2 separate regions of the Homo sapiens genome follow, and region 2 is linked to region 1. A link means that fine-mapping ties the variant in region 1 to the expression of a gene that starts in the linked region. Tissue or cell type: amygdala. Region 1 holds a variant in brackets; the other region holds the start of a gene. All regions are shown on one strand. Distances are between the middles of the regions.

Region 1 (5,152 bases):
TGGTTTTAGGTGCTGCCTCTTTATCTTTTGCTTAGATTTTGGAAGGGTTTAAAATTTCCCTCCTTGCCTTTAGATTCTCTAATCTTGTATCCGACGTTAATTAAGCACCTACTGTGTACTAGATGCTGGTGCTGGGGGCACAAAATGGAAGACCCCTATAGTCCTATAGGGAGGCATATATGTAAACGCATGTGCATCATTACAGAGGTTTGTACAATTTACTTTGGGGGGCGAGGAGAAAGAACTGGCACGGGGAGAAGGGAAGGTTGCACAGGAAAGGCATATCTGAACAGGGTTTAGAAGGCTGAATTTTTGGCAGGTGGAATGGGAGTAAGGTGGGGAGGAGAATATTCTAGAAGAAACAGCAGGTCTTAGAGAGGCATGGAGTGTGAAAAGACGTGCTTCTGTGACTAACATAACAAAATAATTTGGACAAAGTTATTTATCCTTCCTAACTCTTAAGTTCCTCTTGAATAAAAAGAAATAGTGACAGCAATATAGCAATGTGTCCAATCAGTGGATTATGAAACACACTTCAAAGGCAAAATGATATCCTCACACCCAAAAGGTAAATGCTATCATAACTCGGGTGAACTGTGTTCTTGGAAAGGGAGCTTAAAACAGTTTATCCCAATGTTGATTCTGGTTTTGGCTTCATGGAGTCTCATTCATTCTTACTTCTGACCTCTACCCCTACTGTAATTATTTTTTCAAGGAACTGGACCAACAGGACCCAAGGGAGAGTATCAAAGGCAAAACAAAGGAAAATGAGGACAACCCAATACTCAGAAAAAAAAACGAGTAATTCATGGATTCACAACGGGCAACAAACTAGATGACTATTAGGAAGAGAAGAGCAAACCTTATGATCTCAAAATGATTTCTTGTTCATTTGCATCCTCGCATCAATCTAGACTTTAAGAAATATGTGATTTTTAAATAAATGGGTATATCTGCATAATAGTGTTTTGGCATTAAATTATTTGATATGACTATTAAACATGTTTCTGCAAAAACCACTTCACCATACTGCTAGAATCTAGCAGCTAGATTGACCCAACACTTCATTATGTCATTCCCTTGCTCAAAGGTTGAAAGCAACCAGATGTGGTGGCTCACACCTGTAATCCCAACACTTTAGGAGGCCAAGACAGGATGATCACTTGAGCCCAGGAGTTCAAAACTAGCCTGGGCAACAAAGTGAGACCTTTTCTCTACACAAAATAAAAACACATAGTCCCAGCTATTTGGGAGGCTGAGGTGGAAGGATCGCTTGAGCTCGGGCGGTCAAGGTGGTAGTGAACTGTGATTGCACCACTGCACTCCAGCCTATATAACAGAATGAGCCTGTCTTAAAAATAAAAAATAAAGTTGTAACTATTCTCTGCTAAGTAGAATATAAAAATGCCCTAACCTTACACTCAGATTTCCACAATTAAGCTCTATTCTGCCCCCTATCCACACCCTTTTTCACTATTGCTCTACAGAAACCCTCTTCTTTGACAAAATTAATTTTCTTAGTGTGCCTCAAACACACAATCCCATGTGAACACTGACCTTTCATAAAGATGATATTCTCGCCACCCCAGCCACATACTTAACTAGGCTACTAGATACATGTGTCCTCTGTGGTCTCCTAGTGGAAATTCTGTTTTTAATGTTAATACAAATAATTTTTTAAGCAATGCAAGTTTCTTGACATTGTTTAGGAAACGTCAGTGGTTAGAGTGATTTAGTATTGCGTACTGAAAATAATAGAAAAAATATCGACACTGAGTCATATCTACTTCTTTACCTTCGACCTTTTAAAATGTACTTGTGGGATTTAGATTATCTTTGGATTGAACTATACAATACAATAAAATGTAAAATTAAGTGCCCCATGTTTGAGAGACAATCATTGTACTTGAGGTAGAAAAGTGCTTTAAACAGTGATGAGACTTGGTTTTATATTGTCGCTTCACATATGTTTGTTGGACCAGGTTTTCTGTGGGTGCGTGTATTTGATTACATTGTTTAGTTATAGGGAATGTGCACCTGTTTTTTGTTGTTGTTGTTGTTGTTGTTTTCAGCTGGGCGCAGTGGCTCACGCCTGTAGTCCCACCACTTTGAGAGGCCAAGGTGGGCAGATCACTTGAGGTCAGGAGTTTGAGATGAGCCTGGGCATCATGGCAAAACCTTGTCTCTATTAAAAGTACAAAAATTAGGCCAGGCACGGTGGCTTACGCCTGTAATCCCAGCAGTTTGGAAGGCCAAAGTGGGTGGATCACCTGAGGTCAGGAGTTCAAGACCAGCCTGACCAATATGGTGAAACCCCATCTCTACTAAAAATAGAAAAATTAGCCGGGCGTGGTGGCAGGCACCTGTAGTCCCAGCTACTCAGGAGGCTGAGACAGGAGAATCGCTTGAACCCGGGAAGCGGAGATTGCAGTGAGCCAAGATCACGCCACTGCACTCCAGCCTGGGCGACAGAGCAAGACTCCATCTCAAAAAAAAAAAAAAAAAAAAAAAAAAAAGCTGGGCAGGGTGATACACGCCTGTAATCCTAGCTACTAGGGACGCTGAGGCATGAGAATTGCTTGAACCCAGGAGGCAGAGGTTGCAGTGACCTGAGATCATGCCATTGCACTCCAGCCTGGGTGACAGAGAGAGACTCTGT[T/C]TCAAAAAAAAAAAAAAAGTTCCTTTTTAAGGTTGAACAAAGGCTCATTCATTCCTTCCTTTCCCAGACTTTCACCAAGCGCCTTCTATGGGCCAAGCATTGTGCTACGTGCTAGGTATACACAGGCAAGAGGTAATATACACAGATAAAAGGTGATTCTCTCCCAACGTGAGTTGGGAAGACAGACATGGCTAAGGCTTGTGGCTATGCTGAAGGGACTCTGCAACAATTTTCTAAGGCTACTATAATGCTGAGTAACAACCAGCCATGAAACTTCAGTGGTATACAATAAAACCTCATTTCTTGTGCATCTAGGGTGGTTGCTTAGGTAGTTCTGCTGATTTGGCTTGGGTTCACTGAAGTGTCTGGTGGTTAGCTGCCATTGGCTGATCTAGGATGGCCTCAGCTAGGACAACCATGGTAATTTGGATGTGCTTCCCGTGCCTTTCATCCAGCAGGCATGATCTCACGGCAGTGACTAAGACACAAGAGCAAGAACATGTCCAACTGCACAAGTTACTTTAAAGCCTCTGCTTAAAAACATCCCAACAGGCCAGGCACGGTAGCTCATGCCTGTAATCTCAGCATTTTGGGAGGCCTAGGCAGGCAGATCACTTGAGGTCAGGAGTTCAAGACCAGCCTGGCCAACATAGTGAAACCCTGTCTCTACTAAAAATACAAAAATTAGCCGGGCATGCTGGCACATGCCTATAATCCCAGCTACTGGGGAGGCTGAGGCGGGAGAATTGCTTGAACCCTGGAAGCGGAGGTTGCAGTGAGCCAAGATTGTGCCATTACACTCCAGCCTGGGTAAAGAAGCGAGACTCCATCTCAAAAAAAAAAAAAATCCCTACAATCAAAGCGAGTAGCATAGCTGAGACCCCAGGCAGAGTTATATGTCATAGGGCATGGATACAAAGATGGGAGAATGGAGGTCATCATGGCAATCTGCCATGAGCTCTGAACACACAGACCAGGGCACCTAACTCAGCCTAGGGACATAAGGAATGGTTTCCCAGAGAAGGTGATGCTGACTTGAGTTGAATCTTGAAAGAGAAGACGCAAGTTAACCAGGCAATAAAGCAGAGAGGGCGCTTTAAGCAGAGCAACCCACATGAACCAAGAGCTTTGGAGACTGAAGTGCTTCCACGTCTTTACTTTATGTGATGCATATGCCCTGCAGCTATTAACCTTTCTGCAGTTTCCTGTCTGGAATGTAGATGTGAGCCCTAGATGTGCACAGCTGTCTCCTGGCCATGAGGCAATAAGCATGAAGTTGATGGTCTGTAGAAATAAGTCACCCAATGGCATTCTTGAGCCACTGTATCCACCCCAACTGTATGACTACATGACTTCATGTCACACAGGTCAGCACCCAGGAACTCCTGTGATATCCCCTGGAGAACTACCTAGTCCCTCAGTGCTCCGTGATCTATCTCTTCTTTCTCCCTCAGTCAAGACTCTTTCTCTCTCTCTCTCTCTCTCTCTCTCTCTCTCTCTCTCTCTCTCTCTCTCTCTCTCTCTCTCACTCTCTGAGATGGAATTTCACTCTTGTTGCCCAGGCTGGAGTGCAATGGCATGACCTCAGCTCACCACAGCCTCCGCCTCCCAGGTTCAAGCGATTCTCCTGCCCCAGCCTCCCGAGTGGCTGGGATTACAGGCATGAGCCACCACACCCAGCTAATTTTGTATTTTTAGTAGAGATGGAGTTTCTCCATGTTGGTCAGGCTGGTCTCGAACTCCCGACCTCAGGTGATCCGCCCGCCTTGGCCTCCCAAAGTGCCGGGATTACAGGCATAAGCCACCATGCCCAGCCCAAAAATCTTGTTCCTTCAACCAAGCTGACTCCAGATGCTTTGCATTGTTTGGAGAAGTGGTGATGCAGTTTCTCAATGTCTAGAGTTTCAACAACACCCCTACCCTGGCCTCCACGTCACCATTGCCAAGAGTAAAGAGAGAGCACCCCAGCCTCTTCCAGCAGGTACTTCACACTGCCCTTCCCCAAGTTTTCAGTTTGGCCACCACTATCTTCCTGGAGGCCATCATTATCTGTTATTATTTCCTTTATCCTGGTTTATGCCAGTCACACAAGTAGCCCAGGATCCTCAGTTGTTCCTTATCCCTTGTGTTTCATCCCAAATGGCTCCAAATGTCTCATTTTCTGACCCCATTTCCCACCCTCCCCATCCCGACACCCTTGTTGGGATCCACAAAATCCATCTTTTCTCGAAGTGTCTTAATTTCCTCTTCACTTTCTTGCTCTAAAGGAAACTAGGTCTCCCTTGAAGACACTGCTTTCTCTGCAGTCCTCTCAAGTGGTGGCTGTTTCTTACACTCCACAATGGAATAAGTTTTCTTGTTCCTCATTGCTGCTTCCAGATTATTCTGGCTCCCTCCTTCCTAAACATTTCCAGCTTTCACTCTGATATTAACCAGACTATATGGCCCTCATTACAGTCATATGACCCCTGCCACTCTCCAACTCTACTCCTG
Region 2 (5,152 bases), 31 kb before region 1:
GAGACCCTGTCAAAAAAAAAAAGATGATTATCTTGGATTATTCAGGTGGGCCCAGTGTAATCATAAGAGTTCTTGAACGTGAAAGAGGGAATTGAAAGAGAATCACAAAAATGACAGCACAAGAAGGACTTGGCCCAACCTCACTGGCTTTGAAGATGGAGGAAGGGGCCAAGGGTCAAGGAAAGTGGGTGGCCTCCAGAAGATGAAAAAGGCAAGGAAACAGATTCTCTCCTTAGTCTAAATCCTGAATTTATACCAGTGGGACCCATTTTGGATTTCTGACCTCCAAAACTCTAAGATAAATTAGTGTTGTTTTACGCCACTACTCATGGCAATTTGTTACAGCAGCAATAGAAAATTAATAGACACACATGTACATACCTCTCTTCTTCCCCCAATTCTAGACAACCACTTTCTTTATAGATTTGCCTATTCTGGATATTTACATTACATAAATGACCATTAAGTCTGGATATAAAACAAAAACAAGTCTCTATTGTTAATTTTATCGGTTTTTAGAAACATGGGAACCCGTATGTTTACTTGGTGAAGAGTTGAGTATATTCTTGGCCAGAAGATGGGAACACTAAAATTAAAAACAAAAAGAGTTGGGAATAACTTATTTTTGTTTTGCAGGGAGTGGAAAGGAAGAAAATTTCCACTCTCATTTGTCTGGAAAGTCTCCCAGAGAGTTTTCAAGATCATTAATAATAATAGCTAATTCACACTGACCTGTCTTCCCAGCCAATGTATCACCTCTAAGGAAATGTATACTTGATATGTTTTGGCTCTGTGTCCCCAGGCAAATCTCATGTTGAATTATGATCTTCAGTGTTGGGGGAGGAACATGGTGGAAGGTGATTGGATCATGGGGGCGGATTTCCCCCTTGCTGTTCTCGTGATAGTGAGTTCTCATGTGATCTGGTTGTTTCGAAGTGTGTTGCGCTTCCTCCTTTGCTGTCTCTCTCCTGCTGGCCATGTGAAGATTGTGCCTGCTTCCCCTTTGCTTTCCACCATGATTGTAAGTATCCTGAGGCCTCCCCAGCCATGCCTCCTGTACAGCCTGTGGAACTGTTAGCCAATTAAACCTCTTTTCTCCATAAATTACCCAGTCTCAGGTATATCTGTATAGCACTGTGACAACGGACTAATACAATACTCATACTCATGTCTGTCACAATCTCTACCATCAAACATAATTACTTTCAAGCTTTGACCATTCCTTAGATTCCAATGGGAACCACCTTTCTTTCTGGTCACCTCACAGCCTAACTATCCAGCTCTCCCTCTAACTCCTACAGTATCTTTAACTGAAGCTATAAGTAATATCAGATCATGATACCCAGAGTATGGTGTATGATCATGGCATATTTACTGTTACTTAATCCTGACTTGAAAATACTAACTTCTCTCCCATATGTCTGAAAATCCCAGCCACAAATAGGCTGAGGCTGTGGTGGAACTTAAGTTTCATGCACAAAGTCATTTTTGCCTTGGCTGCAAAAAAATATGTAGTTAAGCTAAATATTGTGCTGCAGTATCTATACTGACATATAATTCAATATTATTCTCTCCTTGCAGCTGCAAACATACTTAATGATGAAAGACAGAATGTCTTTCCCTCCAAGATTGGGAACATGGCAGGTATGTCTGCTCTTACCACTACTATTTAACATCATATTGGGAGTCTTAGCAAGAGCAAGGCCAGAAAAAGAAATAAAAGGCACATAGGTCAGACACAGTGGCTCACACCTGTAATCCCAGCACTTTGGGAGGCCAAGGTGGATGGATTGCTTGAGGCCAGGAGTTCAAGACCAGCCTGGCCAACATGGAGAAATCGCATCTCTACTAAAAATATAAAAATGAGCCAGGTGTGGTGGTGTGTGCCTGTAATCCCAGCTACTCAGGAGGCTGAGACATGAGAATTGCTTGAACCCGGGAGGTGGAGGATGCAGTAAGCTGAGAATATGCCACTGCACTCCAGCCTGGGTGACAGAACGAGACTATCTCAAAAAAAAAAAAAAAAGAAAAAGAAAAAGAAATGAAATGAAAGACACACAGATTCGAAACTCAGAACAAAACTGTTACTATCTGCAGGCAACATGATTATCTGTATAAGAAGTCCCAAAGAATCTACAAAACAAGCTCCTAAAATTAAAAGTGAGTTCAGACTGGTCACAGTGGCTCACGCCTGTAATCCCAGCACTTTGGGAGGCCGAGACAGGCGGATCGCCTGAGGTCAGGAGTTTGAGACCCGTCTGACCAACATGGTGAAACCCCGTCTCTACTAAAAATACAAAAATTAGCCGGGTGTGGTGGCAGGCACCTGTAATCCCAGCTACTCGGGAGGCTGAGGCAGGAGAATCACTTGAACTCGGGAGGCGGAGGTTGCAGTGAGTAGAGATGGTGCCATTGCACTCCAGCCTGGGTGACAAGAGCGAGACTTCGTCTCAAAAAAACCAAAACAAACTAACAAAAACATAAAAACACTATGGGACAATGGCATTTGTTTGGACACAGGTCTCCAAATCTGCCTCTTCAAAAGAAACAGACACTGCAACTGCAAGAGCCTTGGTTAAAGACTTAAGCCGGCCCCAACTAAGAGTGGGGATGGCTTCCCTAGGAGGTAGGAATCAGCTGGAGTCCTTGCCTCTCCTGGTGCCCAGGCAGTGCCATCTGCAGACACTTCTGTCATCCTCCCATCCTTGGGGGGCTCTTTCTCCAGCTCCAGTTCGTGAGCGGCAAAGCTTGCAGCTGTACAGCCTCCAAGAGCAAACAGCCCAGGTCCCACCCGGCCACAATTGTATAGTGACGCCCTCCCCGTCCCCTTCTTTGAGCTGCGCTCAAAGGACCAGCCTGGACTGCTATGCTGTCTCACTCCCAACCCAAGCTCCGCCCAACTGTGGGTCCTTGCACTTTGGCACCTTTGAGCGCGGACTCAAAACAGGCCAGAAGCGCACCGCTAGCGAGAACGGTTAGGAGGCCGGAAGTGCGTCACGCTTGTGGGGCGCTTGGAGGCCAGAAGTGCGTCATGAGCACGGCTGCTCTTTCTACGGTGCAACTTTTCCGCATCTCGGTGTTTCCGATTGGGAGACATCCTCTTCCTTTCCTTGTACACACTTTTTTCTCTCCTCAGGAACCTCACGCCTGGGTCATTGTCCATTTGGGTGGGTCAAGAAAGCGATCGCTTCTGCCCGGGAGCAGTTGATTGTCAGGAAGGAATTCGTGATAAAACCGCCATCACCACAGGCCTAGATGGTGGCCGGTGTTTCCTGGTTGCTTACTGGTCTTTCTGAGTTCTGGTTCACTCGCAGTGAATCAACTTCCTTTCACAAGCTCTGCCACTCACGGGCCATTGAGGAAGACCCTTGTGTCTCTGAGCAGCTTTTGTCTTCTGTAAAATGAGCCAGTCAGATTATACCATTCAAGCTGTCTTTAATTCCATGCACTGTAACCTCCAATGGTTTGCCACTACCCCTGGAGTCCAAGTCACCATTCAAGGCTCCTCAGACCCTTGCCCTCCTTCCCCTCTAAATGATAAAGAAAATGCCAAAAGCGCAGGGCATATGGGCTAAGAGAGATAGCTCTAAAGTGTTAGTGCCTGTGGCTTTCTGGGTCCACAAAAGAGAACTCTGGCCAGGATTTTGCTGGACTGTCAAAACGTTTGTGATCACTGTCACAGAATTACAAAACAAACTGGGGACTTAGAGCTTCTTAGTCCCATCTCCTTTACAACAGTATGACATAGTGGTAAGGAGCACAGCCTGGCATCAGGATGCTTTGTTTCAAAGGCCAAAGGACCACTCTGTGACCTTTGGTGCATTACTTAACCTGTAAGTGTCACATTTATTTCTAAAACTAGGATAATAATAGTATTTATTCCCCGGATTGTTGTGAGGATTAGATGTTAGTACATGTAAATCAGTACAATGTCTAGCACATACTAAACACTCACTAGATATTAGTAATTATTACACTCACTAGATATTAGCGATTATTAATAGCTTAGGAATTGAGCCTGAATAGGCTCTGGAGTTAATCCAGTATTCAATCTTTTTATTAAAACCTTTGAAAATGGTTATAAACCTCAGTGGGTTTGGGCATCTGTACACTTTTTACTACCAGACTAGATAGTATAAGCAAAGCCTGGTGGCAGTTCAGGGTTGGTTCTTAGAAGATCAGAGTGCTAAAATAGCTAGCTCATCATGAGCTGAGGACTTCCAGGATGACTAGTTGGACTTGCTGTTCAGTTGGGACTTCAGCAACACAAGTCCAGACAAATGGGACCATGATCCAGGTCTTCAAGAGCAACCCTCAGGCTTTCTGCAGAGTGTAAACTCCTCAAGAAAGAGGCTTTTCTATCTTGTCCATGACTGTATCCTGAGTTTCTAGAATAGTGTTTATAACACAGTTCATGATCAATAATCATTTTTTGATGAATAAAGAGTTGGACATATATGATTATACTCCCTTACTATAAGGGAGAGTGGGACAGATAATACAAGCACTCAACGCAGAATGAATCATGAGTAAGAGAAAACCAAGACTCAAAGAGTTTCAGTAAGGCCACAGCATATAATAGGTATCAGAGTTAAGATTTAAACCCTAGATTATTTCCACCATGTCAAACTGGCTTTCCAGAACAATATACTAAGTGGTATTCCAAGTCCCAATACGCCTTTCTATGCTCTCACACCGTGGACACAAGCTTTCTGACCTCAGTCCCTTCAGGAAGAGAGAGAGAGAAGAGCAACAGTAACTGTAAGAGGAAAAATCATCAAATTCTGAAATAAGGGCCAAAGAACCATATAAGATGACACGAGTCCCATTTTACAGATGAGGAAACTGAACACAGAAAGATTAAATAACGTGCTCAAAGTCATGCACAGCTCTTATGTGGCAGAGCCAGAATTCAAACCATGATAGTTTGGCCTCAGTATACACACATAAGCACTCTATCACTGCCTCAGATACGTAGTTCTGTGTCTCATAGTGAAGAAGTTGAAATATGTTAAGCCAAACTAATGTTTCCAAGCCTCCATTTATTAACTGTGATTTGGGGCAAGTTACCTAGATTCTCTGTGCCTTCAATTTTCTCACCTATAAAATGGGTACAATATTAATACCTACTTTGTAGGCTGTTGAGAGGATT

The links. PIP is the estimated chance that this variant, and not a neighbour inherited with it, causes the effect.
Region 2: it holds the start of ZNF19, and the variant in region 1 is fine-mapped to the expression of ZNF19 in amygdala (GTEx, PIP 0.95).

Annotation. Positions count from the first base shown.
Region 1 is chr16:71,516,890-71,522,041 of GRCh38, forward strand. LOC105371335 (a long non-coding RNA gene) reads left to right here. Exons shown (of 2, transcript NR_135172.1): 2 at 716-957. Among named protein-coding and RNA genes, the nearest start is that of CHST4, 7.0 kb to the right of the region's middle. The variant T/C (reference allele first, on the strand shown) is at 2,660.
Region 2 is chr16:71,486,348-71,491,499 of GRCh38, forward strand. It overlaps ZNF19 (zinc finger protein 19), which reads right to left and starts at 2,977. Exons shown (of 6, transcript NM_006961.4): 1 at 2,925-2,977.